4 linked regions of the Homo sapiens genome follow. The protein of the gene in region 4 interacts with the protein of the main gene of each other region in a pairwise test. Each region holds a gene or a part of one and is shown on either strand. Other genes may lie near its edges.

Evidence for each region.
Region 1: the proteins of ANTKMT (region 4) and MEIS2 interact in binary tests that used the Homo sapiens proteins (3 or more experiments, as listed by UniProt).
Region 2: the proteins of ANTKMT (region 4) and HDAC7 interact in binary tests that used the Homo sapiens proteins (3 or more experiments, as listed by UniProt).
Region 3: the proteins of ANTKMT (region 4) and DRC8 interact in binary tests that used the Homo sapiens proteins (3 or more experiments, as listed by UniProt).

Annotation. Positions count from the first base shown.
Region 1 is NC_000015.10:37,097,549-37,105,567, reverse strand, and holds the start of MEIS2 (homeobox protein Meis2), read left to right. Parts: upstream 1-5,018; 5' UTR 5,019-6,101; coding exon 6,102-6,113; intron 6,114-6,138; exon of another isoform or gene 6,139-6,320; intron 6,321-6,461; exon of another isoform or gene 6,462-6,667; intron 6,668-6,871; exon of another isoform or gene 6,872-7,368; coding exon 7,369-7,601; intron 7,602-8,019. UniProt on the Homo sapiens protein: Involved in transcriptional regulation. Binds to HOX or PBX proteins to form dimers, or to a DNA-bound dimer of PBX and HOX proteins and thought to have a role in stabilization of the homeoprotein-DNA complex.
Region 2 is NC_000012.12:47,809,900-47,816,918, reverse strand, and holds part of HDAC7 (histone deacetylase 7), read left to right. Parts: intron 1-1,265; exon of another isoform or gene 1,266-2,244; coding exon of another isoform or gene 2,245-2,284; exon of another isoform or gene 2,285-3,838; coding exon of another isoform or gene 3,839-3,989; intron 3,990-5,965; exon of another isoform or gene 5,966-5,984; intron 5,985-7,019. UniProt on the Homo sapiens protein: Responsible for the deacetylation of lysine residues on the N-terminal part of the core histones (H2A, H2B, H3 and H4).
Region 3 is NC_000001.11:244,964,771-244,972,682, forward strand, and holds the start of DRC8 (dynein regulatory complex protein 8), read left to right. Parts: upstream 1-4,911; 5' UTR 4,912-5,215; coding exon of another isoform or gene 5,216-5,482; intron 5,483-5,484; coding exon of another isoform or gene 5,485-5,554; intron 5,555-5,555; coding exon of another isoform or gene 5,556-5,648; coding exon 5,649-5,673; coding exon of another isoform or gene 5,674-5,767; exon of another isoform or gene 5,768-5,800; intron 5,801-6,041; exon of another isoform or gene 6,042-6,099; intron 6,100-7,738; exon of another isoform or gene 7,739-7,912. UniProt on the Homo sapiens protein: Component of the nexin-dynein regulatory complex (N-DRC), a key regulator of ciliary/flagellar motility which maintains the alignment and integrity of the distal axoneme and regulates microtubule sliding in motile axonemes.
Region 4 is NC_000016.10:716,717-723,096, forward strand, and holds ANTKMT (adenine nucleotide translocase lysine N-methyltransferase), read left to right. Parts: upstream 1-4,429; 5' UTR 4,430-4,558; coding exon 4,559-4,720; intron 4,721-4,881; coding exon 4,882-4,986; intron 4,987-5,084; coding exon 5,085-5,225; intron 5,226-5,367; coding exon 5,368-5,418; intron 5,419-5,592; coding exon 5,593-5,841; 3' UTR 5,842-5,874; downstream 5,875-6,380. Other genes in the region: METRN (meteorin precursor), read left to right, coding at 217-276, 355-671; CCDC78 (coiled-coil domain-containing protein 78), read right to left, coding at 5,962-6,073, 6,206-6,380.

The sequences.
Region 1 (8,019 bases), on a different chromosome or scaffold from region 4:
ATGTCTTTTTTCAAAATCAGTAAAGAGAACTTCCCTCCCGGAATAAAAATTAACCTTACAGAGTTTTTAAAGATATGCTTAATCCAAAATATTCCAAATCAAAACATTAAATAAAGTTACAGATAAGATTAAGGTTGGACTTATTTGCTTCTCTAGCAAGGCGTCAATTGTTCTAACTGTTGTAAGAAGACAAAAAGGATTTAAACCTGGCGATTTTAATACACAGATTAACACTTTGGACTTCTCAGTTCTGAGGAATTTGAAGTTATCTGTGCTAAGAAGCTATAACTTTCAAGGAAAAGAAAAAGAAACAGCTACACAAGCTCCTTAAGGAGTGTGGGCAAATTCACCTAGAGTCTGGGTTCATAAATTCTTGGTTCAAATTAAACACTCCCCATAAAGCCAATGCCCTTCAAATTAAGGGACTATAGTGGAATTCAATTATTCCTTTTAAATCTTAAATGTTACCTATAATAGCATTCCATGTTGGCTCAAAAAAAGAAAATGAAAAATAGAAAAGTAGCAGTTTTCAGAACTCTTGGGGCTGCTTCAATAAGAAAGAGGTGATTAAAAACAGACTCTTAAATTTGAGAGGCCCGATTCCCCCTTCCACTGGTCCCCACCCGCTTGGTCCCCTCCTTTTCACCTCTTTTTTATGCAGTACCCCCACCCCCACTCCAGAGCTAAGTAGCTGATTTGGGATTCTGAAGAAATAGGTTTCACCATCCATATTTGTTCTGGGGCACTTGTAAAATGCGATTTGTAGAGGGTCTTTAGCCTTCTGATTGTCTTTGAATTGTTTTTACTGAAACAGATCTTTTGCAGTTAATGAGTCCCCACGCAGCTGGACAGCTCCTCTCGGACACTGAGAACTCTAACCCCAAAATGACCCCAATTTGACACCGCAAGATGAAATTTTACCGCCTGTTAAAACCATTTCCAGCCTGGGCAGAAGGAGCTGACTGTTGACGGAGGTGTGTGCCACCTCCTGCGACCCCCATTTCGTGCCTGTCTCCCGGGCCTGCCCCACCTACTTTCCTTTCACCCCAAATATGGGAGAGCAGATGAGCCTGGAAGCCTGGGTGGGAGTGCCAACGCTGACAATGGGGCATTAGCAAAATGCCACCAGGATGGAAATCAGTAAGTGCGGGTACCCTACTCCTTTGGAATCGCTTCTATTGGACTGGAAAATTGGGGATGAGGGAAACCAGGAAATTCTTATATGTTAGATGAGCCTTTTTCAGCTCTATTAATAAAACACCCGCAAGTTGCTGATTAAAGGTAATAGTGTTTTGAATTCAGCAGACTGACCAAGAACCAATACCTTGAATCGACTCCAACTTGATCTCCTCATGTGTAATCCACTACACTAGGACTGCTATTTTAAACTAACAGTTTCATAAGTGACATGCAACTAGATCAGTAAGATCTCTTTCGTTCAAAGAAATTCTGGGTTCTCCCCTGAGACAACTGGCAAATTTTAAAAAGACATAGATTTCCTCCAGTAGGAATGCACTTTCAACACTCTCACACTTTTTTAACTAAAAGTCGTTGAAGTTAAATATGACTTTTTGACAATATCTTAAAATGTCATATTTCTCTCTCCCTCCTACACCTAACCATATTGTTCCTGTTGTTTGCTTTAATGTATTCAATAAAATGCAAAAGAAGTTAAGAATATGAAAGAGAGAGACAGAGAAAGGCGTTAAGGTTAAAAATGCCTTCTGCATCTGATAAAAACACATGAAAATAAAGTTTAAACTTTTCTTTTTTTGTAAAACCCAAGATTATCACCAGATAATCAACTCATTATTAGCTTACAATTGTTTGAAAACATAGAAATCGGCCGGGTGCGATGGCTCACGCCTGTAATTCGAGCACTTTGAGAGGCCGCGGCGGGTGGATCAGGAGGTCAGGAGTTCGAGACCAGCCTGGCCAATATGGTGAAACCCCCGTCTCTATTAAAGACACAAAAAATTAGCCGGGCGTGGTGGCGCGCCCCTGTAATCCCAGCTACTCAAGAGGCTGAGGCAGGAGAATCGCTTGAACCCGGGAGGCGGAGGTTGCAGTGAGCCGAGATCGCGCCATTGCACTCCAGCCTGGGCGACAAAGCGAGACTCCGTCTCAAAAAAAAAGAAAAAAAAAGAAAAGAAAAGAAAAAAAGAAAAAGAAGATAAAGAAAGAAAAGAAAATATAGAAATCATCAATCTGTCTGAGTTGTTTTTACTCACACTGCAAGGGAAGGAATATTTTTCTAAAAATGCGACTTAAGTTTTTCTAAATGAAAGCTATAGAGATGCTAACTCACTTTACAGTATCACTATAAAAACAGAAAAAGAAACAGAAGGTAGCAATGTTGAATGTTTAAACCCTGCAAGGCAGAGGTTCCGCATGAAGTTGATCTTTACAAAAAAAGGTTTATCAAGGACACTGAGGAATTTCTTTTAAAAAGAAACGTAACTGGCACTTATTGAACAAGACATTTAAAACAACAATAATCCTATTGGCGACGATAAACTTAAATTCTTAAATTGAATTTAAGAATAATTAGAAGAGTAAAAACTGAGTACAAATTTCTCAGCCAGCGGCGCTGCACCGGGAACTTGGACCCACCAACATCAACAGCTTTGCAAAGTCGAAAACGCTCCGCAGCGTTTTTGTTTTTTTCCCCTCCCCACCCCGCCGCACTCTCAAACCTCCCGGTCCCGGCTAAACTGAATTCGCGTAACTGTCGATTGAAATAAAATTCTGGAGACCAACTTTTTCTTTTCTCTTTCATCTTCTTTTCTTTTTTACTCACCTTCTCTTAAATGTCGACGAGCAACTCAGCAACAAATAAGGATACTTTTAATCTTGGAGTTCTTCTAGGAAAAAAAAGAGGACGTGGAGGAAGTACCCTCCCCCCAACCTTCAGATTTCCTACCCGTCGGCTCTAGCAGGCTTGAAGCCCGGCAAAAAAGAGTGGCTGAAAACCTGGGCTACACTCTCCTCCCTGAAGCTCCGTGAGTCTGGCCGTCCCTGCTCGGGCCATTGGGCAGAAACCTCGCGGCCCGCAGCCCCTCTCCCTGGCGTCGCGCTATCCGCGCCTCTGCCAGCCCCTTCGCACTATCTTTCTTTATATGTGAGGGCCGATTTCCCGCAGACATCATTGTTATGATGGCTCATTTAATCAAACTGTTTAATTGCTCTGGTAATCACTATCATCATCACAGGTGCTCAATCATTCATCATTTTTGGAGGGCTTTATTGACCTCCGGAGTTCATTCCTCAGCCCTATTAAAACGAGGCCAAATTTCTCCGACTCCGCTTGGAGTCTCTGCAGGCTGCAATCTTAGCCTAGTTTCTGTTGCTCGAAAGCTTACAGTGAAGCAGGGAACATGGAACGGGGGCCAAAAAAAAGAGCCCTCCCACCCGCCCTCCTCCCCGCTCTCTCTCGCTCTCTCTCTCTCTCTCTCACACACAACACACACACAGAGTACTTTATTCTCTCTAATCAACCTCCCCCATCCCACCCTCCCTCCGCGGGAAAGTCGGTTAGACGCGGCTCGCGGAAGACACTACTCTCCACTTCTCAGAATGGGTTCAAAGTTGGGGAGGGATGCGGCTGTTGGAGAACAACAGTCCGCTTTCCACTCTCTGGGCCAGGGACTGGGAGGGCGAGAGCGAGAAGTTGGGGAGAGGACGCGCTTCCAGCGCCTGTCCGCCCGGCCGCGCCACAAGGGGCCGAGGGGCATGGGGGCTGCTGGGCGGCAAGGCTTGCGCGGGGTGACCGTGGCTCCGCCCCCAACTCCGGGCTCGTAGTGATTGACGCGCGGCCGCCGGGAAACCAGCCGCGCAGAGGTGAAGCCTGGTGCAGCTCGGGCCAGGGAGGACAGGGCACCGGCCACAACTAGTTTCCACCCAAACGGTGTGGGGTAGTTCCCTTCGTTTCCTTTTCCTTTTTGGAAAAGTTCTTTCGGAGCTGGCCCCATCTCCCTGACCCCGCGAAATCGCCCCTGTGTAATTAACACAGCCATTAGCAGGCGTTACCGCGGCCCGCCGCTGCGCCTCGGGCGACCACAACAAAGCTGGGCTGTGAGCGCCGGCCACTCCTCCTCGCCCGGCAACTTCTTTCTCCCCCACTCTCTCCGTCTTTTCCTCCTGTGCTTCCCAGCTCTGAGTGAGATCCACTTTGGAGACGCACACTAGTCGCGCGCGCGCACGGGCGCGCGGGCGCGCGCGCGCACACACACACACACACACACACACACACACACACACACACGCCTTTGGCTACATCGGACCCAGATGACTGCCTCCTCACTTCCTCCCTCCCGATTCCGCCGCGGCCCCCAAAGACTCTCGGGGTGGCCCCTTGTCCGCACCGCTTGGAGGGAGTGTGCTCTGAGTTAAGCTGGTCTCTTCTGGTCCTGGAAAAAAATGAGTATTGACAAGGTTGCTGGATCTGCGCAGAAAAGAAAGTGCCACTTAATAAAAAATTTAGCCCGGCAGTGGTACCGTCTGCAGAGCTTGCTGCCCTTGGACGTTAGCAGGAAGCCTTCGGGGTGCTGTAATCGGCGGGCAGAGGAGAGGGAGGCCGCGGAATTAAAAGGAACAAAAGCTAGAGCGCCATGCCAAACGTCCCCGGCAAGACCCAGTTAGGCAGGAGCCGGGAGTGATGGGAAAATGAACTAGAAGTAAGTTTTTTTTTTTTTTTAAATGAAAAGATCTGAGGCGGTACCGTACTTTCCCTGTGGTTTTCTGCAGTTTTCCTCTCTGCGCTCTCCCTGTCCTCTTCTCTCTCCCCCTCTCCCTCTCTCCCTGTTCGCGCGCGCGCGCGCGCAACACACACGCGCGCACGCACACACATACACACACACTCACACACACAGACACACTCTCCTTTTCCTCCCCCCCGCCGTCCCCCATCCCCGTGGAGGAGCAGGCTTGCTGATTTGCTCGGGTCCGCCCGGCTCGAGCCTCCCCTCCCCCTCCCGCCCCCCCGCCTCCCCCACCCCCCCAGCCGGGGCTGTCCGATCGCACTCGTTGCATATCAGAGGCTCGGCGCGGCGCGCTCCTCCTCGCTCCCGCTCCCCACTCCCGGGATGTGTCTCCGCCGTACGACGGGCTATGGCCACCACGACTTCCGGGTTCCGTCATTTCGTTCTCCCGCCGCCGACCCGCGCCGCCAAACTGAGGCTCTTCAATAAGCCAGGCAGCAGCCAACCTGCCAACACCTACTGACACTCACTCATCTCCCAGAGAGAGAAAGAGAGCGAGAGAGAGCGAGCGCGAGAGAGCGAGCGCGAGTGAGAGCGAGCGAGCGAGCGAGAAAGAGAGAGAGGGAGAGACAAAATACCTACCAGGAAAGGGGGGGAGGAAGTCCAATTTTTGCAAACTATTCATTTTTTTTTCTTGATTTTTCTCACTGCTTTCTTTGAACAATACTTTAAAGAGAGAGGATCGTATTATAGATACCGCGGGGGCAAAGCTAAAAAAGGGGGGAGGGGGGAGGAAAAAATTCAAGAAGCAGAAACCCCTCGCGGAGTTTTACTGGAAGAAAAAAACGGGTCTGAAAGATTCCTCCTCTTCATCATCATCAACCATCATTCATTCACTACCTTGACATTCCGGGCTTTGATTGACAGCTGGAGTGGCAAAAAGCCATGAAACACGACAGTTCGGTTACATGTGGGCTGCTGACGGGCCGCTCGTAACCTTCAGTTCGGGGGCTTGACAATTTTTTTCTTCTTTTTCTTCTTTTTCTTTTCTTTCTTTTTTTTTCCAACTGAGGGGAAGAGAAGAGAAAGAGGGGGAAAGGAGGACCGAAGAGGAGGAGGAGGGGAGGGGGGAGGAGGAGGAGGTGGAGGAGGAGGAGGAAGATCAGGAGGAGGAGGAAGAAGAGGAAAAAAGAGAAAAAGAAGAAATATCACAGAAAAAAAAATTCTTCGTTGTCTAGACTGGGCTTTTTTTCCCCCCTAAAAAATAGCATATTGGAGAATTGGGAGAAGTCTCTTTGGTTTGGAAAAAAAAAAAAGGAATCTTCAGCCTAGATCACTTTCTTATCCGGACTGGGATATTAAATATACGACACATCCAGGAGTTTATTGGAGCGCAGACTGATGGCGCAAAGGGTAGGTTTAAATCTCCAACACTTACCTAGATATAAATCCTCTCCTAAGAGGGGCCTGTCCCGATGCCTCCTCTCCCTTCAACGCTTCTGCTGCTGCTCGCTGCTTGATGATGGCGGCCAGTATTTTAAAAAATAGCAAAATTATTCATCGGCTTCTTTCCCTCCCGTGCCTCTGCGTGTGTGCGAGTGTGTGTGCGTGCGTGTGTGCGTGTCTGGGCGCGCGTGTTCCAGCGCTGTGCGAGCGGGCGGGCGGCGAGTGCGTGTGAGTGGTGTGTGTGTGTGCGTGTGCAATCGTTACACGCTTTCGCCTCGCTCCAGCTTTTACCCCAGCAGCGCGATTCCCCCGGTTCTCCTGCTGCCGCTGCTGCGCCGCTGCCGCCGTGGCTCGCGCGGCTCGGGGCGGGCACGGGCTGCGTAGGAGCCGCCGCCGGGGCCGCCGCTGGGGCCGCGCTGCCGCAGCCGCTGCGCCGCCGCCTAGACTACTAGCCTGGGCTGCTTGTTTTGTCTCTGAAATTGACAAGGACGCAGGGAATCCGCTGCTAAATAATGTTTCTGGTAACTTTCACGTTATTCGCCCCCCCACCCTCCGCTCCCTGCCCCCGGGGAGGCACTGGCCCTAGTCTTTCCTAGTCCTCGGCGTTCTCGTGCTGATTATTAGCGTTTTTCTTCTCTTTATTTTGTTTCATTTCGCCTTTTGATTTATTGGATCCTCAGAGGAGGCGAAGGGGGGTTAGGGGTGGGATCCGGGGCTTCCTCCTCACACTAACTCCACTTCTCCCTCCGTTGGCTCGCTACGGTTCTGTTGCCTCCGGCGGGAGCGGGGCCTCCCGGCGCCCCCTCAAATCCCCGGCCTCGCCGCCTCCTCTTCCTTCTCTAAACGTTGCTCTTGGTTCATGCTTTTTCATTTTTAAATTTAATAACATTTTTTCCTCACAACTTTTAACTCCGTTGTTTTGGCTGGTTTGGTTTCTGTGTGCTCAACTTGTGCTCGGTACTTTTCTCCTTTCTGACTTTGTTTTTATTTTTATTTTCTCTCTCTCTCTCTCTCTCTCTCTCTCTCTCTCTCTCTCTCTCTCCCCCTCTCCTCCTTTTCCTCCTCCTCCTCTCTTCTCTCTTACCTCCCTCCCTCTCTCTCATCTTTATCCCTTCCTCTCTTTTCTGTTCGCCCTCTTCTCCCTGCTCTTTTTCCCTTTCCACCCCCCTCCTCTGTTCTCCCTCACCTCCTGCGCCCCCTCCCCCTTCCCGGGTTCTGACAGTACGATGAGCTGCCCCATTACGGCGGGATGGACGGAGTAGGGGTTCCCGCTTCCATGTACGGAGACCCTCACGCGCCGCGGCCGATCCCCCCGGTTCACCACCTGAACCACGGGCCGCCGCTCCACGCCACACAGCACTACGGCGCGCACGCCCCGCACCCCAATGTCATGCCGGCCAGTATGGGATCCGCTGTCAACGACGCCTTGAAGCGGGACAAGGACGCGATCTATGGGTAAACTGACCCCCCGGACCCAGCTTACTGTGTGTGAGTGTGAGAGTGTGTGTTTGTCTCTGTGGGGGTGGGAAGGTGGACGACTAAGTGGGGAGTTACTTCTGTATGGTGGGGGGCGGGCGCCGCTTGCCTTAGGAAGGGACCGTGGAGGGGGCCTGCTCTTCTGCCCCTGGAGTCAAAGCCCCGAAGAACTAGCCTCTTTCGCTCTCACAGCCCGACCACTCCAGACCCCACAGCCTGGAGTGACTGAGTCCCCAGAATCTTGCCGGGGCCTTCTCCCCGAGGACAGGATTCCTGGCCAAAGGACGCAGGACTGCTCGTTTCAGGCTCCCTAACAGAGGCCTTGACGAAGGAGAAAGTTTCCTGCCGATGAGAAGCAACTTTGGGTTTTTTTATTTTTTACTTTTTTTTCTTCTGT
Region 2 (7,019 bases), on a different chromosome or scaffold from region 4:
CATGGACTCGCGGGCTGGGGGAAGGCCCTTTGGCGTCTTCTGGGGGGAAGGGAGAGGGAAAGAGGGGAGCTGGACGCCCGGAAGGGCCCTGAGCAACTTGAGTCGCTGGCCTAGCCTCTTGTTTCCTCCCAACCCATCCCCACTGCCCTCCTCCAGTCTCCCTCCTCCTACAAGGGAGAGGTGGGTAGCATGCTGCCTGGGGCAAGGGGCAGGGGTGGGGGTGGCAGAGGTGGGAGGGATGTTTTCATCAGCAGAGCATAGCTCCTTTGGTCCTGGACCAGTTCCCAGAGGCAAAATAAATTCAGGACAGCGTCTGTTTAGTGTGGGTCTGCATGAGATGTGTGTGAGCACACACTGGGTGCGTGGTGGGTATCTGTGTGTGTACCCCTCCCCCCAGACCCTGTGTATGCTGATGTGGTGGTTCCGGGCAATTTGTGATCTATGTGGTGGTTCTGTGTTGGGTGTTTTGGGAATATGCACACATAAAAGACAGATGTGCATCATCTGTATGGTGCACACCTTTTCAGGTTATGGCCCTGTGTGGGGTAAACATGTCCATATGTATGGACATGTTTTTTGGGGGTATATATCTGGGCAGGAGTGGCTTTTTAATAGAAGTCCAGATGCTGGCTTGTAAAACACCATCTCATTTGGGATTCTCAAATGCGGGTTCCTGGACCATTTGCTTCAGAGTCACCTGGGGAATGTGTTAAAGATAAAGATCCTGGGCCGGGCGCGGTGACTTACGCCTGTAATCCCAGCACTTTGGGAGGCCGAGGCAGGTGGATCACCTGAGGTCAGGAGTTCAAGACCAGCCTGGCCAATGCGGCGAAACCCTGTCTCTACTAAAAATACAAAAAATTAGCCAGGTGTGGCGTGCGCGCCTGTAATCCCAGCTACTCGGGAGGCTGAGGCAGGAGAATTGCTTAAACCCGGGAGGCAGAGGTTGCGGTGAGCCAAGATCACGCCATTGCACTCCAGCCTGGGTGACAGCAAGACTCTGTAAAAAAAAAAAAAAAAAAAAATCCTGGCTGGACGCGGTGGCTTTGGGAGGCTGAAACAGGCAGATCACTTGAAGGCAGGAGTTCGAGACGAGCCTGGCTAACAGGGCAAAACCCCATCTCTACTAAAAATACAAATTTAGCCAGGCATGGTGGCGCAGGCCTGTAGTCCCAGCTATTTGGGAGGCTGAGGCAGAAGAATTGCTTGAGCCCAGGAGGTGGAGGTTGCAGTGAGCCGAGATTGCGCCACCTCACTCCAGCCTGGGCAATAGAGTGAGACTGTCTCAAAATTAAAAACATTCAGATCATCAGGCCCATTCCAGATTGACTAGTCAGAATCTGAGGGGTGGGGCCTGGGAATCCAGATTTTAACAGGTGCTTCAGGTGATCCTGGGGCAAGGCTGTGTTTGAGGACCACTGCCCTGGGTCAACCTCTTCATTTTTTCTTTTGAGGAAATAGACCCACAGAAGGTATGTAGTTTCTCTAAGGTGACAGGGCCATTAAGAGGAAGAACCAAGAGAAAACTCAAGGCTTCTAAGACCTGTCCAGGACTTTGTGCTCACCCATGTACCCCCTGTGTGTGTGTGTGCATGTGTGCTCATAACTACACTTTGTGATGACGTGGACCCGATTGGGCTGGTGCTAATTGGGGCTGATCTTTCCTCTGGGGTCCTGGCTTTCTTGTTTTCTGACCTTGTTCTTCTTGCTACATTCTGCTGCCTCCTTTTTGGAGAAATCCTGGAACTGTTGAGTGTCATCCCTAAAGGTCAATGTTGGCAACCAGGGAACCATGTTGCTGAGCCAGTCACTCAGCAATTCATCCATTCACTGGATCCTAGCTGAGCCTTGCAATGTTCTAGGCACTGGGTACAGATATGCAGTGAACACACAGGCACAACATCTGACCTCAGGGAACTTCCACTCTCGTGGAGAAGACAAACAGAACAAGTAGGCAAGTAAAGGAATGAGTATGTGTGACTAGTTACACACTGTGATAAGCCCTAAGAAGGAAATGAACTGGGCATGGCAATAAAGAATAACAAGGTGGGACTTCCTTTGATAGGGTGGCCAGGGGAGGACTGCCTAAGAAGGTGACATTGATGCCGTCTCCCACCTCCCCAGGTTGGAAGTGAGCCATCAGAGCCTCTGGAGCCGTGCTTGTGAACTCCCTGGATGCAGGTGGAGGCCCTGGGCTGACCAATGGCTAAGGGTTGGAGCTGAATTGCCAGCCTCTCACTTGGCATGGAAGATGGCAGTCTCCTCCCCTTAAGCAGCCCCAAAGGTTGGCAGAGGGGAGAGCAGAAGGGGGAGCTGCACAAGGCCAAGATCAAAGCCACTCCCTTGCTTGGGGAGCACCCTTTTTCTTCCATGGGGCTGAGTCCAGGGCCCTGTGGCCATACTGAATGTTGAGAAGGAGGCAGCATCTCCCCAGGAGCTCTCCTGTTTCACCTTCCTCCCACCTCCTTCCCTTCTCCGCCATCTCCCCAGTTGGGGAACTACTGTGCCAAGTCCCTTCCCTCTGGTCTAGCCTGCTGCCTCTGTGGCCACTTTACTTTACTTGGCTCAGGAATCACCAAAGAGAGGGGGTCAAGGCCTAGAGGGGACCTGGGCCCTGGAAGAGAGGACAGAACCAGAAAGGAAGGCTGGGGTTGGGACCAGAGAGGACAGGGCTCAAGGGAGGATGGAGGCTGGGACAGGAGAGGCACACGGGAAAAACCTGAGCCCAGATGGCCCTTTGGCTGGGCTCTCCAGAGTCTCTCCTGGGCCCTTGGAATCTGCTGCCCAAACTGGGGGAGACTCTGAGACCAGAGGGCCAGATGGGGCTGATTCAAGACACGGGCTCTACATCAGCTGGGAGGAAATGCCCCTGTCTGGTCCACCTGCAGCTCTACGCTTCACCCCTCTCAGGAGGTTAACTTTCACATCAGCAACTTGGGTGTCAGGTTCCGGCTCTAGGCCAGCAGGCCTCAGCCCCTCTCACCTCCAACCTCTTCTCCCAGGAAGGTTTTTCTGGGGACCCAGAGCTTCAGGCTGCAGGAAGGTGTTGCCTGGCCCTTGCCTTAGATTATTGAGTGTCAAAGGAGCCCTGACTCCAGGTCCGCTTTTCCCCCTGCACACTGCCAAGGCTGCCTTCCACCCTGGGCCTCTCTGGAGGCTGCTCAGTGCTCTTCCCGACTCCCAGGCCTTCCCGCCCAAGCTCCACAGCCCCCACAGCAGGATGGGGAGGGGACTTCTCCTCGTCAGGAAGGCCCTGGGCTAAGCTCACCATCCCCACCCTGTCTCCGCACCACTTCCTTTTTCCTCCATCTTGCCTGCAGGGATTGTAAACCCTGGTGGTCAGAAGCTTTGGGCCTATAGGGTCAGCCTCTCACCCTGGGGATCCGTAGGGGAACTCCAATCCCCTTCAGTTCAGCTTCCTCCCTGCAGGACCCATTCCAAGGAGCCTAGCTCTGGCTCCTGAGGTGACCCCAGCCCAGAAGTCCCATTCCCCTCTACCCCAACCCCCAGAATGGCAGGAGGAGCAGGGCAGTCTGGGAGTGACAGGTTCGGAAAGAGTCTGGGGTGGGGGAATTCGGCGATTGGGCTGTAACCGTCTTGTTTTGCTTGCCCCACAAACCTGCACGTCCGGGACGTCCGCTGCGCCCTCCCAGGCGCGTTCAGGTTATAGAACTGCTCTCAGAATGACAGGCTGGTGGCACCCGGCTGGGGCGGGGGGTGGGGAGGTGAAGGGGGGAGCCCCAGGCAAGGGGGAGCTGGAGGGTTAAAAATAGCAGCAGCCTTGTTTCGGTTAGCAAATGTGGAGGCGGGGAGCTGGAGGCGGGGCGGGCGGCGGACGATGTTTGCCCGCAGCGCAGGGCTGTGCTTCCCCTGGGTCCCGGGAGTGAGTCACGGCGGAGACGCTGAGGAGGTGCTGGCGCAGCACCCCACCCCCACCGGGCGAGGGGCTGAGCGCAGGCCTCGCCCCCCAGATTCCAGCGCTGAAGGAGGTGTGACTCTCCCTTCCAGGCAGCCGGGGCCGCCTTGAGAGTGAGCCAGGGGCATCGTGTGATAATAGGGAAGAAATGTGCCATTCTGACGCCAGAGATCTGGGTTTGAATCTTAGTCGAAAGGTGTGGGATCTTGAGTAAGGATGCTGATGGCTCTGAGACTCGATTTCCTAGTTTCAAGTGGGGCTTTTCTCTGTGCCCCACTTAGTGCTTAAAGCACTCTACAGATGTTAATTATCGCCTTAGACCCTACTGTATATATGGCAAAGCCTGGCAGGAGAGCTTCCTGTAAGGACGCAGAGGGAGGAATGGGATGGCCTTGGCTGAGTCTCGGTTTCTCCTGCAAGTGTGATTATGGGCACATTTTGCTCTGTGCCTCCACTTCTTCATCTGTAATGTGAAAATAATTACAGTTTCAACTTTATGGAGTTGCTATGAAGATTAAAGGAGATAATGTAAATAAAGTTAGCTCTGTGCCTGGTATGAAGTCAGGGCTCACTGAATATTCATCATCATTATTAATGTTATTGTTCATATTTTTTGAAGGTCAGGGATAGGGAATGTTGCAGACACGAAGAACAGAAACTGGGCCTAGCCCCAGTTCACAGAAAAAACCAGGCCAAATCCCTGTTCCAGATTCCTCCACCCATCGCGGCCTGGAACAGCCAGAGAGCTGTAGCCAGAAGTCATAGGGTGGACCCCTGCTTCTCTTGTTCACTCCCTCTCCCAGCCTCTCCCAGTGAGGCAGGGCGAGGAGGGACCCCAGGGCCTTGAAGCCAGCTGGCCCTGGAGAGGGGCTGCTGTGCCAGCTTGGGGAGGGTCTGGGATGGGGCTGCCCCTGATGGCCCTGATGTGGAGTACCTTGCCAGCATCTGCTGGGGTGAACTTTATTTTAGCCCTTCCCTTGTTGCTCTTATGAAGAACAGAGGAGGGGTGGGCAGGTCAGTGATGTCAGCAGTGAGTATTCCCAGCACAGCGGCTCTGGAAGAGGCATGAGGCATTTCTTTCAGGAAATGATCATTATTCAGCCAGAAGGCATTCATTAAGTAAGTCCTGACTTTGTGCCCAGCTCTGTGTTATAGGCCCTTGGCGAGACTCAGGAGGGGCAGAGGACGCTAGGTTGTAGATAACACGGAACCTCAGAGGATATATGGTCCAAGAAGACCCGGGGGCGGTGAAAACCCTGTGGACTAATGCTCACGGGAGCCCGAGGTCACACTTTGACTTTGCTACCATGGGCTGTGTCTATGTACGTATATATGCTGCGTAATTATTACAGAGGCAGTCCATGTGCATTGTGGATACTCAGACAGGACAGACCAGCAAAAACTAAAAAATAAAAAACATCACAGACGCATCAGTCAGAGATCACTGCACATCTTTCCATTTCCGTATGTGTCTTTATGTGTTGTAATTTTTATGAAAATGAGATTACTCTGCATATACTGTTTTTTCAGTCAGTGATTTCCACCTTCCATTACAGTAAATTTTCATCTTAACGGAATTCCCAGTTGGCCAGAAATTGTCCTTACAGCTGGTTTGTCCAAATCAGTACCCAGGACCATGCCATCTGTCTGTTGAGTGACCTGAAGGCAGTGTAAGCACCCTAGCTGGATTTGTGATCTGGAAAAACCCCTTCAACCAAGTCTCAAGGGCAGCCTGGCTGCAAAAGGGAATCAGGTCACGTGGAGAATCTGCCCACTAGACTTCTGCTGTCTTCCAAAGTAATAGGCAAAAGGAGGGGGATTCTAGGGCACCACTGGGATGGGACCTCTAGGGTATTTACTGTCATTAATGTTAATGTGGCATCCCTGTGAGTGTCAGGATTCACAGCTTGTGGCTATTCACATCCGAGATGCCTCAGTTCGGTTTGCCTGGTTCTTACTGAGTGCAGACCAGGGTCTCCATTGTGGCTTCTGCCTTCCTCTGCCCCAGATCCAGGGATGCTGATAGCCGTGCGGCTGTGTTCCTAGTCCCCAGAAAGTGGCCCTGAAGGTAGGTGCTCCCTTTTGCACTTGTGGGTGCTTCCAGCGCTTCCACCTGCCCAAGGCCTGCCCGTGAGTGAGAGACAGAGATAGAGATAGAGAGAGAGAGAGAGAGAGAGAGAGAGAGAGAGAGAGAGAGACCTTTTCCTCCCAAGAGAATTTACCCCCGAGTACCCACTCTGAGGGTGACTTGCTCTGGTTATGCAACCCGCATTTTGTAGAGGGCTTGACAGTTTCCAGAGAGCTCACGCAGCGTTTGATCCTCTGTGGCAGCCCTGGGAGGTTTGCTTGTTTAGTTATACCCTGCTGGAGGCAGCTAACAGGAAACACTGTAAAGTGTTTAAATGGTACACTTTAAAATGGTAAAATGTACATTTAAAAAGGAAGGGAAATAGAAGATGAAAAAGGAATTGAGGATGGCAGGGGTGGAACACAGCACACTTTGTGGGAACAGGCTGGCATTGGGAGCATACCCTAGGGCCTCACTGTGTCTTGCATCCCCTTGTCCCCTTGGTGGTCTCACCTCAGCCACTACTAGGAGGCAGGCTGAGTAAGCAGTCCACGCCAGTGTACCGATGCTAAGCTTAGGTTCTGGAGTCCCAGCAGCTCCACATACCATCTGTGTGACCTCAGCAAGTTTCTGAACCTCTCTTAGCCTTAGTTTCCTCATTTGCAAAATGAGAATAATAACAGTATATAGGCCGGGCGCAGTGGTTCACGCCTGTAATCCCAGCACTTTGGGAGGCCAGGGTGGGTGGATTCAGTGAGTTCAGGAGTTTGAGACCAGCCTGGCCAACATAGTGAAACACCGTCTCTACCAAAATACAAAAATTAGCTGGGCATGGTGGCTTGCACCTGTAATCCCAGCTACTTGGGAGGCTGAGGCAGGAGAATCACTTGAATCCGGGAGGCAGAGGTTGCAGTCAGCTGAGATTGTGCCACTGCACTCCAGTCTGGGTGACAGAGTGAAATTCTGTCTCAAAAACAAAACAAAACAAACAAACAAAAAAACAGTATCTGCCTTACAGAGTTGTGAGGACTACTT
Region 3 (7,912 bases), on a different chromosome or scaffold from region 4:
ATCTCAGCACTTTAGGAGGCTGAGGTAGGATTGCTTGAGGTCAGGAGTTCAAGACCAGTCAGGACAACATAGGGAGACTCCATCTTTACAAAAAATAAAAAATTAGCTGGCCATGGTTAATCCTGGTTAGCACACCTGTAGTCCCAGCTACTTGGGAGGCTGAAGTGGGAGAATGACTTGAGTCTGGGAGGTCAAGGCTGCAGTGAGCCCACCACTGCACTCCAGCTTGGGCAACAGAGCGAGACTTTGTCTCAAACAAAGAAACAAACAAACAAACAGACAGACAAAACAGTGACTCTGAAATCAGAACTAGATTCCTAACCAGCTCTCTTATTTACTGGCTGTGAGCTTTAACCAAGCCATTTATGTGAAGATGTGGTATTTTTATCTGTGAAACGTGAATACTAATACAATACAAAGTACCTCATGCAGCTTAATAAAGAAGAACTACTTTTATTATTATAACTGTAATGAAACTATGTCCTTATTCTGTTGTATTCTGATAAGGATTTCCTTTTGAGATCATAAGCTCAGGGACTCATCTATGAGGAGGGGTGGTGTCTTCCATGAAGGGCTGGATATTTTTGATGATGATCATTCAGGGAAGGCATGTACCCTCAGTTAGGAAACTGAAATTAGACCAGAGAACTACCTCCCTCCCTCTCACTGTCCTGCATCTACAGCTCAAGGAATCCAGATACCCTTACAGGCCCTCCTGAATAGCAAGGTGGAAACAAGGAAGGGGCCACAAGCTGAAGATGATAAGCTGTACGGTGTAAACCAGATCGCATGTCATACAGGCAGCAGATTACAGCAGTGAAGGGTAGAAACCCTGAAGTCAGAACATCTCCCGTTGTGCATTTGAAGCATTAGAAAAGCAAACTCTCCTAGTGGAAGGTGAATTTCAGGACAGAAGGTGGGGTTTGGCGTCTGAGTGCTTCTGCCCAGGTGGAATGGGGCTTATTTCAGTAGATTTCCTTGCAAGTCCTTTAAACTTCTCGAAGCTTTCAGTTACATCTATTGCGCCTCGTGAAAACTCTAAAATAGGAAGTTTGGACATTGTTACTTCTATTTTTATGAGTTAATAAGTTTTAAAGAGATTACATGACTCGCCCAGGATCATGAGATTAGTAAATGGCAATGCCCAAGGAAAATCCAGTTTTTTTAAAAAAAAATTATTCCCAGTCCAGATTTCAATTATCTCCATATTAGGAAAGTAAACAGGGCATGAAGGATTTTTAAACTATCATTTTGCATTATTCCCACCACTTACCCTTTCCACTTCACTCACATCTTAGGTAACTGAGTCAACTGCATTCAAAAGAAACATTTTTGGGGGGAGAGGGGAGGGATAGCATTAGGAGATATACCGAATGTAAACGACGAGTTAATGGGTCCAGCACACCAACATGGCACATATATACATACGTAACAAACCTGCACGTTGTGCACATGTATCCTAGAACTTAAAGTATGATTAAAAAAAAGTAAAAATAAGTAAATAAATAAATTCCTTTAAACAAAAAGAAACATTTTCTGTGTTCCTCACGGACACATCACTGATGGCTGTCTGAACAGATTCAACTCACTATAAATTCAAGCATGCAAAAGGACATAACCTGTACATATCCACCTGGCTCCATAGAGTAATTAAGCAAATAAGTGTCATTGTCTAAAACTATGTGCTTGCTTTTCTGATTTAGCCCTAAGTTTATATATCCATGAGTGGGATCAAAAACGATTTTCCGATTCTAAATTTCTGAAAATCACGATGAGATGTTTAAGTGAAAAAATGCTTTGGCAGCATACAATATTACAAGTTACTCAAGTATTACAAGTTAACAAGTTACTCAAGCTATAGCTCAGAAGCCATATACATATATATGTGTATATATGTAGAGTATATATGTATATATACACATATATGTAGAGTATACATATACGTAGATGTATATATACTCTACATATATGTATACGTATACATATACGTATATGTATACGTATATGTATATATACATCTATCTATCTATCTATCTATATATATATATATATTTTTTAAGATGGAGTCTTGCTCTGTCACCCAGGCTGGAGTGCAATGCCATGATCTTGGCTCACTGCAACCTCTGCCTCCTGGGTTCAAGTGATTCTTCTGCCTCAGCCTCCTGAGTAGCTAGGACTACAGGCTTGCAGCACTATGCCCACCTAATGTTTGTACTTTTAGTAGAGACGGGGTTACACCATATTGGCCAGGTTGGTCTCGAACTCCTGGCCTCGTGATCTGCCCACCTCGGCCTCCCAAAGTGCTGGGTATACAGGCATGAGCCACCGTGCCCGGCCGCAAAATATATTCTGAGGAATAAAAATGATTGTAGTTAGTTTTCCACAGTCCAAAGCAAGCTAATAATATTTAAAGAGTTAAAAGTGTAATATAATCATCGGTCATGTTTCTACAACCAAAGAGAGTTGAAAGGAGTCAAATATCAGCATAATGCAGATAATGTACTCACTGGCATTGTGGGCCTTTATTATTTGGATAATCATTTTCACCTTGTGGAGACTTTTCCAGAATTATATACTTTTATGCCTAATCAGCAAATTAGGCAGTTGAAAAGTATGTATGAAGCAGCTAATATGTGCCCCAATTAGGCTAGGTAGTGTGGGTATATAAAAAGGGTTTATAAAGGGGGAGGCTCCTATTCAAACCTTAGTGGGGTCAGGAGATGCGGAAGTTAATTAACATATATTAAATATTTTTTTACTCACCCACACCTAGAGAAACAGTACTGTTTTAAATGTGCTGTAGGAGTTCAGAGAAATACTGATTAATGTGGTTTGGAATAAATTAAATAATAAAAAGCTTTGCTGAATACAGTTAGTTTAAAAAATATAAAAATATAGGGGGATTTGCAGAGAAATCTGTTCAACTCTTAAAATAATTTTTAATTTATATATGTTTATATAAGAATTCCATTTTATTAACATGAAATACTAGTACCTTTTTTTGGGGATGGAGTCTTGCTCTGTCATCTGGGCTGGAGTGCAGTGGCGGATCTCGGCTCACTGCAACCTCTGCCTCCTGGGTTCAAGCGATTCTTCTGTCTCAGCCTCCCGAGTAGCTGGGATTACAGGCGTGAGCCACCACATTCGGCTAATTTTTCTATTTTTAGTAGAGATGGGGTTTTACCATGTTGGCCAGGTGGGTCTTTAACTCATGACCTGAAGTGATCCACCCGCTTCAGCCTCCCAAAGTGCTGAGATTATGCGTGAGCCACCGCGCCTGGCCCAGTACTTTTACTGATGAAAAATGTAATGTAAAAGGAAGGTCTGTCTTACATACAATAAGTGCTGAATCTGGGTCTTTTTTAAAAAAAGTCATTGAGAAGACTTACTCCTTTCTTAAGTTTTAAGACATTTATTATTGCAAACAGAAAAATTGTACTAGATACCGGGGATATATAAACGAATAATGCCGTTTCTGTCTTCAAGATCTTACTGTTTGGTAGGTGGAAATAAAGTGAACGAACGAAGGCACTGCAAATCAATGTGGGAGGCTCTATAAGCATGGGGCCACAGAGGAAAAGGCTGAGAGGGAAAGCTTCAATGACTAGGTGACTTCAAAAAGGTCATCCTGGCCAGGCACAGTGGCTCACACCTGTAATCCCAGAACTTTGGGAGGGCCAGGCAGGCGGCAGATCGCTTGAGCTCAGGAGTTTGAGAGCAGCCTGGGCAACATGGGGAAACTCTGTCTCTACAAAAAATACAAAAACTAGCCAGACATGGTGGCGCGCGCCGCTCCTCCCAGCTACTTGGGAGGTTGCGGTGGGAGGGTCACTTGAGACCGGGAGGCGGAAGTTGCAGTGAGCAGAGATCACACCACTGCACTCCATCCTGGACGACAGAGCGAGACCCTGTCTCGAAAAACAAAAGACAAAAACAAAAACAAAGGTCATCCTGCAGGACAACCAGGAGGGCACAAATGTGTGTCTGTGGGAAGCTGAAATGTTGGCGGGGGAAAAAAGCAGGGAAAGGCATTCCAGAAAAAGGAAACTGTAAACAGCACACGAAAAAGCATAGTGAATGAATAGGAAGCCTGAGACCAAACTTAGGGTTTCCTACACTTATTTCAAAGCCCTTCATTATCTATATGGAAAGGGGGAGTCTTTAAACACAAATATTTAGATCATATTGACTGAGATTTAGATATAAATGAATGCTAATAATTACTTTTCGTTATTTTGGGGTGTTAAACATTTACTGTACAAGATTGTATTCGTTTTAAGTATCTTCTAACATGAGCCATTTTGTAATGATTCAGTTGTTTATATTCAATTTCAAGTAGAATGCTGATCACAGCGCCAAATGGGTATCTTCTACAGAAAAAGTTATTTTAATAAAGAAAAATATAGTCAGTTTTAGGATTTCCTGAGAGATTATAGAAACAATAAAAGCATTAAAACTGTTAAGTCATTAAATACGAGTACCTTGTATTTTGAAGGCTCTTAAAATTTAGTTTATAAATTGCTTTTACATAACATATGCACTGAAATACCACTTAAGATTAGTTTTGAAAATAGGTGTTCGTTTCAACCACATCATTAGGTATTTTATTCAAAGCTCTTTATAAAAAGAGCTTTACTATGTTCCAGTATAGTAAACTTATCCAGAAAATAAGACAAAAATTTAACTTCATGCTATAGCTGCAAAGTTTTCGGAAAGCGGGATTTAAAACTTCCATTGTAACTTTAACTAGCGGTCATGTCAAATTTCACAACTAAGAACATTTTAACGCATGTAATACTGAGCACAACATGGGCACGTTTTTGTTGCTATGAGAACCTTCTATTTTGTATTAGACATTGCAGCCTTGACGACGCAATGTTTGTGCTATTTTGCGCATGTTTTCCTGCAGCTATTCCTCTCCTCTAGCAATAGTCGAATGGCTCTGGTTTCCTCTTGCGCCCGGCCCAGTTTTTCCGTTTTAGCTTCGGTTGTCATAGGCTGTGCTGTCGCTTTCTCTGGGAAAGGACGGTGAAGACTGGACGGGAGAAACCGGGAGGGCAGGCGCGGCCGTTCTGCAGCAGCCGGGCCGCTTCCCGGCGGGAGGCGGGCTGCGAATGGGAAGCGGGAGGAGGAGGCCGGGCCGCGGGCTGGTTCTATCACCCCCTTGGGAGCCCAGCTCTTCACCTAGCTCTCCGGCGCTTTTCAAAATCTGCAGTTAACAACAAAAATCGAGCAACGCCACGTCGCACAAACAGGACAGGAGGGGGCGAGGGGTGTGTGCGCGCGCGTGCTGTCCCCAAATGGATGAGAAATAAGGGAAAGGAGGGGTTGGGGACCGTGTGATGAAGCAACATGCTAGGCCCGGGACAAGTCCGGCTCCGGCCTCGGGTCTGGAGGGACAAGGCCGGGGGCCGGGTGGCAGACGGGGCCTCTGGTCTTCCCCCAGCGCGAGGGTCGTGGCGCGAAACGGGGACAGGGCGCGCGCTCGGAGCCTCCTCCCCGCCCCGCCCCGCCCAAGGGTCTTCCTCCCCCGGGATTCAGAGCGGCCCCTCCTCCAGGCCAGGCTCGCCGCGGGGCGCTGAGCAGGCCGGGACACCGCGGCCGAGGTTATCGTTAGGCATCTCCCAGGCGACCGGCTCCGCAGCAAGATGGCGGACGAGAAGGACAGGGAAGGTAAGGTAGGGGAGCCGGGGAGCCGCTGCCCTCGCCGCCCGCCGCGACCCCGGGCTGCACGGGGAAGCGCCGGGTGGGGTGGGCCCTCGTCCATCTGGAGTTCCCACCCGCAGGGAAAGGGCGGCCTGAGGAGGGGGCCACCCGGCAGCAGCAGTCGCCCTGCCCCCGTCCCCGTAGCCCGCCCGGCCCGCCGCTCCGCCCCGCCCCGCCCCGCCTCTCTCCCCCGCCCCGCCCCGCCTCTCTCCCCTCTTCCCTCCCTCTTCTCTCTCCCCTCCTCCCGCCTTCTTCTTTCTCCTCCCGCCCTCTTCACCCTCTTCCCCTCCTCCCGCCCCGTCCTCCTTCCCCCTCCCTCGGAGGCCGGGCCTTGCATCCTGCGCGGGCTGCGCCGGAGGCGCCGGCAGGGGGTGCTGATAATGGCGTCGTTGTTCACGGTCGCGGGGAAGCCGCCGCCGCCTCCACACTCTCGCCTGGGGTCTCGGTGCCGCAGGCGCCACGCCCGTAGCTGTCCAGGCTGTGGGCCCCGGGGGGTGGCCTGGGTGAGGAGGAGTTCTGGCCGCCTGAATCTGACGGGATCCTCTGTTTGCGCCGAAACCCCGCGCTGGCGCAGCCTGATGGCGTTCGCGGCCACCATTTTGCCTCCTTAATGAGGACGCAGGAGGACGGTCTGGAGGTCACAGCCGCTGCCTCCGAGCTTCCCGGTCCTCCGAAATGCCTGCCCCGCCGCCGGCTAGCGCCGCGCAATTGGCCTAGTGTCTTGTCTTAAAAAAAAAAAAAGACACACACCCAAACAGCAATTTTAATAACGACGAAAAACCAAAACCTGGTTGAGATCTTGGAACCGCTGTGCGCCGGCCGGGCCTCTCCCAGGGGACCACCCAGCCCCGCGCGGTGGCCGCCTGCAGAGGCGGGACTGCGCTTCGAGGCTTAAGGTCGCCAGTTCGGAGGCATCGATGTGTTGTCTGTGCGGAGAAGCCAAAAAGTGATTACGTTTATTTGCAAGACCGTTCATGTTGTTTTCAGTTCATGGTATGATTAAAACCCGATCCTTTGTTACCATGCCCTTAGGTACTAAAAAATAATTGTGTTTGATAGTTGGCAGTCACCCAAAAATATCCAAAAAGCCATGAAACAGTAAAGGTAAACAAGTAGGAAGTGAAAATAATATTCGTCCTTTGTTTTCTTTCTGGAGTGCTCAAAACACCCTCTCAAACCATTTTTCTCAGCATAGAACCAAGTGTGGTCAGGTTAACAGCTAATATTTACAAGGGAAGAAACGAACCCTGAGATATTTAGTCACTTGTTCCGGTGATCACAGAAAATCGGCGAAGAAACACATGAAACTGCCAACGATCTCTCTATTGATAACAAGGATACCGTGATTTTTATGTAATATTAATCTGAGAAGCCAGGATTATTTTGTAGGTATTAGCTTTACGAAGATGCCCTTACATACAAAGAAAAGGATAATTTTAAAACTTTCCCAGAAAAATGGATGGCTTATTTTTGTTCTTTACCAAAAAAAAAAAAAAAAAAGCCATTAGGAGATAAACTAGCAAGGTAATTATGGATATTTATTTTCTTAAAAAAGACTTGGTTAGGTCAGCATGAGAAAAAACGCACTGGAGTATGGTACAAATACAGTATTTCTCGTTTTTTAAAAACTGAGAGCTTTCCTGATTTTTCAGCTTTTGAACAATTTTTTTCCATTTAAAGTAAATTCAGAGAAACAATTTTGTCGATAACTCATAGAAGTAATGACTGTTAAAAGCTGGATGCCATTCATTCAGAATACATATATTCAATGCCATTATGTAGATAAGGCATTCTACTTAGAACTTTGAAAGATACGAAAATGAAAGACATTGTCTTTGCTTCCAAGGAAGGTGAGATGAGTAAGGGAGATGAGAAATTTACAAATGGGAGGAAATAGTTAACTGGGCTGAGTAGTCTGGGTGCCAACCACTGTGCTAGGTGTGTATCCTTGTAGTCCGTGGACAGCAGCCTGGACATCACTGGCTGCCACCGACCTAATAATGAATCAGTCTTCATTTTAACATGTTTGTAGGTGATTTGTATGTACATTAACTTTCGAGAAGGCCGGGCGCGGTGGCTCACGCCTGCAATCCCAGCACTTTGGGAGGCTGAGGCGGGCGGATCACGAGGTCAAGAGATCGAGACCATCCTGGCCAACATGGTGAACCCCGTCTCTACTAAAAATACAAAAATTAGCTGGGCGTGG
Region 4 (6,380 bases):
TACGCGCCTGCAAGTGTGTTTCCTGAGTACAGGTGTCGCCGAGGGCGTGCACATCTGCTGTGTAGCTCTCTGGGACCCCCAGGTGCCATCAGGCCCTGAGCGTGGGCTCTGCTCATTTGCCTGCTGCCTCCTGCCGCTTGTGCGGACAAGGGACGGGGCCTGGGGTGATGCCGGGAGAGGGCAGGGCCTCTCCTCACCACCCCCTCTGCATGCCAGGTGCCTGCAGGCCCTGCAGCGACGCTGAGCTGCTCCTGGCCGCATGCACCAGCGACTTCGGTGAGTGTCCCCGCCATGGGGGGAGCCTGGAGCCTGCCTTCCCCTGAATGCCTACCGCAGCCACATGCCTCCCCACAGTAATTCACGGGATCATCCATGGGGTCACCCATGACGTGGAGCTGCAGGAGTCTGTCATCACTGTGGTGGCCGCCCGTGTCCTCCGCCAGACACCGCCGCTGTTCCAGGCGGGGCGATCCGGGGACCAGGGGCTGACCTCCATTCGTACCCCACTGCGCTGTGGCGTCCACCCGGGCCCAGGCACCTTCCTCTTCATGGGCTGGAGCCGCTTTGGGGAGGCCCGGCTGGGCTGTGCCCCACGATTCCAGGAGTTCCGCCGTGCCTACGAGGCTGCCCGTGCTGCCCACCTCCACCCCTGCGAGGTGGCGCTGCACTGAGGGGCTGGGTGCTGGGGAGGGGCTGGTAGGAGGGAGGGTGGGCCCACTGCTTTGGAGGTGATGGGACTATCAATAAGAACTCTGTTCACGCAAGCTGCTGTGGACCTGGTCTCCTGTGTCCAGCCCAGCCTTGGGCCTGCCTCGCAGCTGTGAGGATGGCTCCAATTCCTGCCTCCTGGCGGGAGACTGAGGCTCAGGGGAATGGTATCTTGTTCAAGACCATTTGGCAACTGAGAGGGAGAGCAGATGTCAGGAGGAGCTACACCCACATTCCGGGGAGGGGCCGCTGCTGGGTGGGGGGCACGTGGGGACCTGCACTCATGCAAGCTTCTGCTCTGCTGCACCCACCAGCCCCGTCCTTGCCCGCACCCTTGCCTGCTTCCCTGGCTGGCTCCCACTTGCCTCCCGTGCCAGGTGCTTCTGGGGCTCAGCAGGAGAGGAAAGGGGCAGAGGGGCATAGGGTCCCTCGGGTACGGTGGGGGCAGGCGGGCGCACAGCGCTCCGGCTCTGAGCCAGGCCTGTGAGGGAAGGGGCTGCAGGCTGGCAGGGTGCCGACTTCCCCCATGGCTGCTGTGAGCCCGCAGAGTCATCCTTGGCCCCGTCCCGCCCTTGGGGAAGAATGGGCCCCTCTGTCCTCAGGCCCCTTCGACGTGCTGAGCATCCAGACGTGGCGAGGAGCCCGAAGGGTGTGGGGTCCCCTCTGCAGGGTCCTGCTTGTTGCCTGTTTCCGGCGGGCGGGGTGCACAATGGGGTCTCTAAGGACCGTTTCCCGCCACTGGCCCCATTGTCACTGTCTCCGCCTTCCTCCTCGGCCTTTCAGCCGCATAAAGGGCCAGTGAGGTTTGGGACAGCCACAGCCCAAGGCTCCGAGGCTAAAAGCCCCTGGGTGGGGGTGTTCCAGGACACCTGGCCCTGTGTGAGCTGCCTCCTCTCACCCCAACCCCTCGGATCCTGGGAAAGAGACAGCCATGGCTCAAGGGCCAGGGACCCCTGGGCTGAGCCCCAGAAATGGCTTTCCATTCTCGCCTGGGCCGGGGTGGGGGTGGAGGCCAGAGGCCCTGCCCAGGCAGATGAAGCCCCCAGCTTTCAAGGGGGAAACTGAGGCTGTGTGAGGGACACAGCTGTGCAGGGCCCACAAACACGGTCCTTTCTCTAGGTTAGCGGATGCAGATGCCTGATGAGTGCCATGCCCTCTGTGGACACCTGGGGAGGGGGGTCACCTCCAGCGCCGCCCTGGGACTTCCACTGCACGTGCAAGAGACTTACCCTTTCACACAGATCACCTGCCTGCCGCAGGGCTGATGAGGATGGGTGAGGAGCGCAGCCACTGGGTGTCATGCACTGTGGGGGTTCTCCCACCTTCTGCCCCTCCTCAGGTTCCTTGCTGCTTCTCTCCTCTCCCAACTGTGGCACGCTGAGGGCTCAGGCACAGGACCGCTCCTCTGGGGCAGCCTCCAATAACCCTTGGACAACCTCCACTTTTTCATCTTCAGCCCTGACCACTCCCTGGGGCCCATAGCCTTACATCCATCTGCCCCCAGCCCAAACACTTCTGCAAACACTAGAAAAGGAGGTAGCCCGTGTGCCCTCCTGCACCGCCTCCTCCACTCCTGTCTTGGAGAGGCTTTCCCGTGGGCCGAGCAACCCCCTTACCTTTGGCACTTGCCCTGATTCTCTGGCCAGCTTCCTACAACCTCTCCTTTTCAGCCACACCCAAGTCCACCTGTTCACAAACACCCTGGGCTGGGCCCTGGCCGAACCCTGGCTTCTACCTACCTGTCTCAGGAAGTGCCTGAGCCTTGCACCTACAGACCCTCCCAGAGAAAGCCCTGGCTTTGCAACCAGCTGTCTTCTCATGAGACACAGGGCCACAGGAGCACCACGGTGCCCAAATGGGTCTTGGAGCATTAGACCAGGGGCTTCATGCCTGCCCTGGGGACAGGTGGCCAAAGTGGCATGGGAGATAGGGAGACAGTGTGGGTGAGCAGGTGGGCAGGAGCTACAGGAGCCTGGGGCCTGTGGATCACAGACACCGCCAGGCAAGTGCCAGTTCACACAGGTACAGGTGGCTGCAGAGTGCCCAAAGGCCAAGCAGCAGAGTGCCTGGTGTGGACGGGAGAGGAGTGGGGAGGTTGGGCGCAGTGGCTCACGCCTGTAATCCCAACACTTTGGGAGGCCCAGGCAAGCAGATCATGAGGTCAGGAGATGGAGACCATCCTGGCCAACATGGTGAAACCGTCTCTAATAAAACACAAAAAATTAGCCAGACATGGTGGCATGCATCTGTAATCCCAGCTACTCAAAAGGCTGAGGCAGAGGAATCACTTGAACCTGGAAGGCAGAGGTTGCAGTGAGCCAAGACTGCGCCACTGCACTCCAACCTGGGCGAAAGAGCGAGACTCAAGTCTCAAAAAAAAAAAAAAAAAAAAAAAAAAAAAAAAAAGAAGAGTGGAGAGTGCACGCTAGAGTCCAATTAGGTGCATTCATCCAGTAAGCCTCCTAGGTAACTGCTCTAGGTGCAGGGAATAATGCAGGCAGCAGGACAGGAATGGGCGCTGTCAGCTCCCCCTAGAGCTCAGTGTACATACACCCTTCCTTTCCTGGGAGGGCCGTTCCAGGCCCCCAGGAGACAGGACACGCTGAGCTGGGTGGGGCTGGGGCCAACGTGGGCAGGCCTGTGAGACTCTGCACTTGGGAGCTGGGGGCTGTGGTCTGCGGCATACCCATGTCTGGAAGCAGCCTCTGTCCCTGCAGGGGCTCTAGACCCCAGCCACGGATGGCTAAGGAGGAGCTAGGCCAGGGCACGCATAGACAACCCCCGACATTCACGGGTGTTCAGCCCTACCCTGGGTGTGGAGGTCGTGGCCCAGCTGCCTGACCCAGAGCTCGGCTCTTCCACTTGCGCTTCCCACCCCCAGCTTCACAAGGTCACCTCCAGGAACTCAGTCTTTTTGTGTGTTGTTTTCTGGAGAAGGAAGGTGATCTCCCCACTCCCGGGGCTGTCTGCCTTCCCTGTAGCTGGCAGGTGCCAGAGGCCCCCGCCTGTGACATCCGGCTTTCCTCCCACCACACTCGCCTGAGAGCCAGCATCTGTCTTCTTGGGCCTGCTCAAGCTCTCCTCCGTGTCAGCCCCTCCTCCATGCCCTTCTCCCTCAGACCCCACCCCCCATCCCTTCACCGCCCACTGGGGCTCATCGCTCAGGCTGTAGGAGGGAAATGGAAGGATGTCCTCCCGGGCTCTGGCTGGCGCTGGGTGTCCGAGTCAGCGGAGCGCCCCCAGCAGTCTCCCCGAGGCAGAGTCATGGGGGTGCTGGCGCCTGGACGCTGTCTCATCCCGGGGAGCCGCTTTCCCACCGGCTCCCTGGGCTCCAGCCGCCCCACGCGAGCCCCCGGCTGGTTCTGGGGCCAGGACCGCCCCTCTCCAAGGCAGACTTCCCTTCATTCCACGACAAAGACGCGCAGCCCCGTTTCCCTGGGGCTCTAGCCCGTGAGATCGCCGGGTGTATCCCGACTCCCGCCGGCACGTGCGCTCCCCCAGGGCAGGGCCTGCCTGTCCCCTTCCGCGGGTCGCCAGCAGCCAGCACAGGCCGCAAACGGCGGTCCGCAGAGCGGACCAACGGAGCCGACCCTCGCAGGCTTGGAGCCGGACGCGGCGGGGCAGAGCCCCCGAGGCTGCAGCTCGCCGGAACCCGCGGGAGGGCAGCCGGGCTGGGCGGAGCGCACAGCGCCACGGACCGACCGCGCAGGCTCTGCCGGCCACTTCCGGTGTCGCGCGGCGGCTCCCGGCAGGAGGCAGAGGGCACACCGCCAGCCCCAGGCCAGGCTGCGAGGGCCGCGGACCCGAGCCGGGAAGGACCTTGGGCGGACGAGCCGCGCGTCCCGCAGCCATGGAGCAGGACGACCCGGTCGAGGCGCTGACGGAGCTGCGCGAGCGGCGGCTGGGCGCGCTGGAGCTGCTGCAGGCGGCGGCCGGCTCGGGCTTGGCAGCCTACGCGGTGTGGGCGCTGCTGCTCCAGCCCGGCTTCCGGCGCGTGCCGCTGCGGCTGCAGGTGCGGGGCGGGGCCAGGCCGGGCAGGGGAGCTCGGCTGCCGCTCAGGGTCTCAAGGTCTGGGCGTGGCCGGGGTGAGCTCCGCCCCGCCGTGTGGTAGTTCGGGCCGGGCTGCGGGCGGGGCGGGAGCGGCCAGTGGACTCTCGCCGCCACCCGGTCCAGGTGCCCTACGTCGGCGCGAGCGCGCGGCAGGTGGAGCACGTGTTGTCGCTGCTGCGAGGACGCCCCGGAAAAACGGTGGATCTGGGCTCTGGCGACGGCAGGATCGTAAGTGCCTGCGTCTGGGTCTTCGCCGCCCCACACCGCCCACCTGCTGGCGGGCGCCCCTGCCCACATCCTGGTTCCCACACTCTCGGTGCCCACAGGTGCTGGCGGCCCACAGGTGCGGCCTCCGCCCGGCCGTGGGCTACGAGCTGAACCCCTGGCTGGTGGCGCTGGCGCGGCTGCACGCCTGGAGGGCCGGCTGTGCCGGCAGCGTCTGCTATCGCCGCAAGGATCTCTGGAAGGTAACCTGGGGATCCCTGGCCACCCGCTGACAGCCCAAGGTGCGGCTGACACCTGCGAGGGCTGGGGGCCGGGACTCGGAAGCTGCGATGACCCGGTGCCCACCAGGCCTCTCCCCGGCCGGGGCGACTTCTCTTCCGGCAGGTGAGCCTGAGGGACTGCCGCAACGTGTCTGTGTTCCTGGCCCCTAGCGTGGTAGGTGCGGGGTTGCCAGCCCCGCTGGGAAGCCCCAGCCACACCCCAGGGTGTTTGCTGCTCTGAGGCCTGGGCCTGCCTGGTGGGTGCTAGGCTTGGGGCTAGGGGGGTGAGCGCGGCTGTTTTCTACCGGCCCCGCCCCCGCCCCCTCTACTCTGCTGTTCTCTCCCTCAGCTCCCGCTGCTGGAGGACAAGCTGCGGACAGAGCTGCCTGCTGGGGCCCGCGTGGTGTCTGGGCGCTTCCCACTCCCCACCTGGCAGCCTGTGACCGCGGTTGGCGAGGGCCTGGACCGAGTATGGGCTTATGATGTTCCTGAGGGTGGGCAGGCTGGGGAGGCCGCCTCCTCGCGGATACCCATCCAGGCTGCCCCCGGACCTAGTTCTGCCCCCATCCCGGGGGGCCTTATTTCTCAGGCCAGCTGAGTATTAGACACGATAAAGACTCTGTGGGTTCTATCCTGACTCATGTTTTATGGGGGGCTGGGTGGGAGGGTTCTGTGCTGGCTGAGGAGCTCTGCTCTGCTCTGCTCCTTGGGAGACGGCCTAGTGGCTGCCGGTCCTTGGATGCTGGGGCTTGGCTGGAGGCACAGCCCCCACTTTCCAGGGGTCCCCTGCACCTGCCAGCTTCCTCAGCCTCAGGATTTCGTGCTTGTACCTGCTCAGAGGAACCATGCTTAAGTGACTTGCCCAGCTGTGGACAGGTCTGCTTTTAGCGCCTGAGGCAGCCATCATCCTTCATTCCAACCAGACCAGGGCCCTGGGGTCACACCCAGCTCCCTCTGCCCACCTGCCCAGGTGCTGGTCCACGTACTCCTGTAGCTCAGAAAGTTGCTCTTCAGCCATCGTGGCCCGGACCAGCAGCTGTGCCCGCTCCCGTTCCAGCTCTGCCTGGCATGGGGATGTAAGCCATGAGCTGGGGCATGGCGTGAGGATGGGCCTGGGCCAGCCCTTGCCTCCTACCT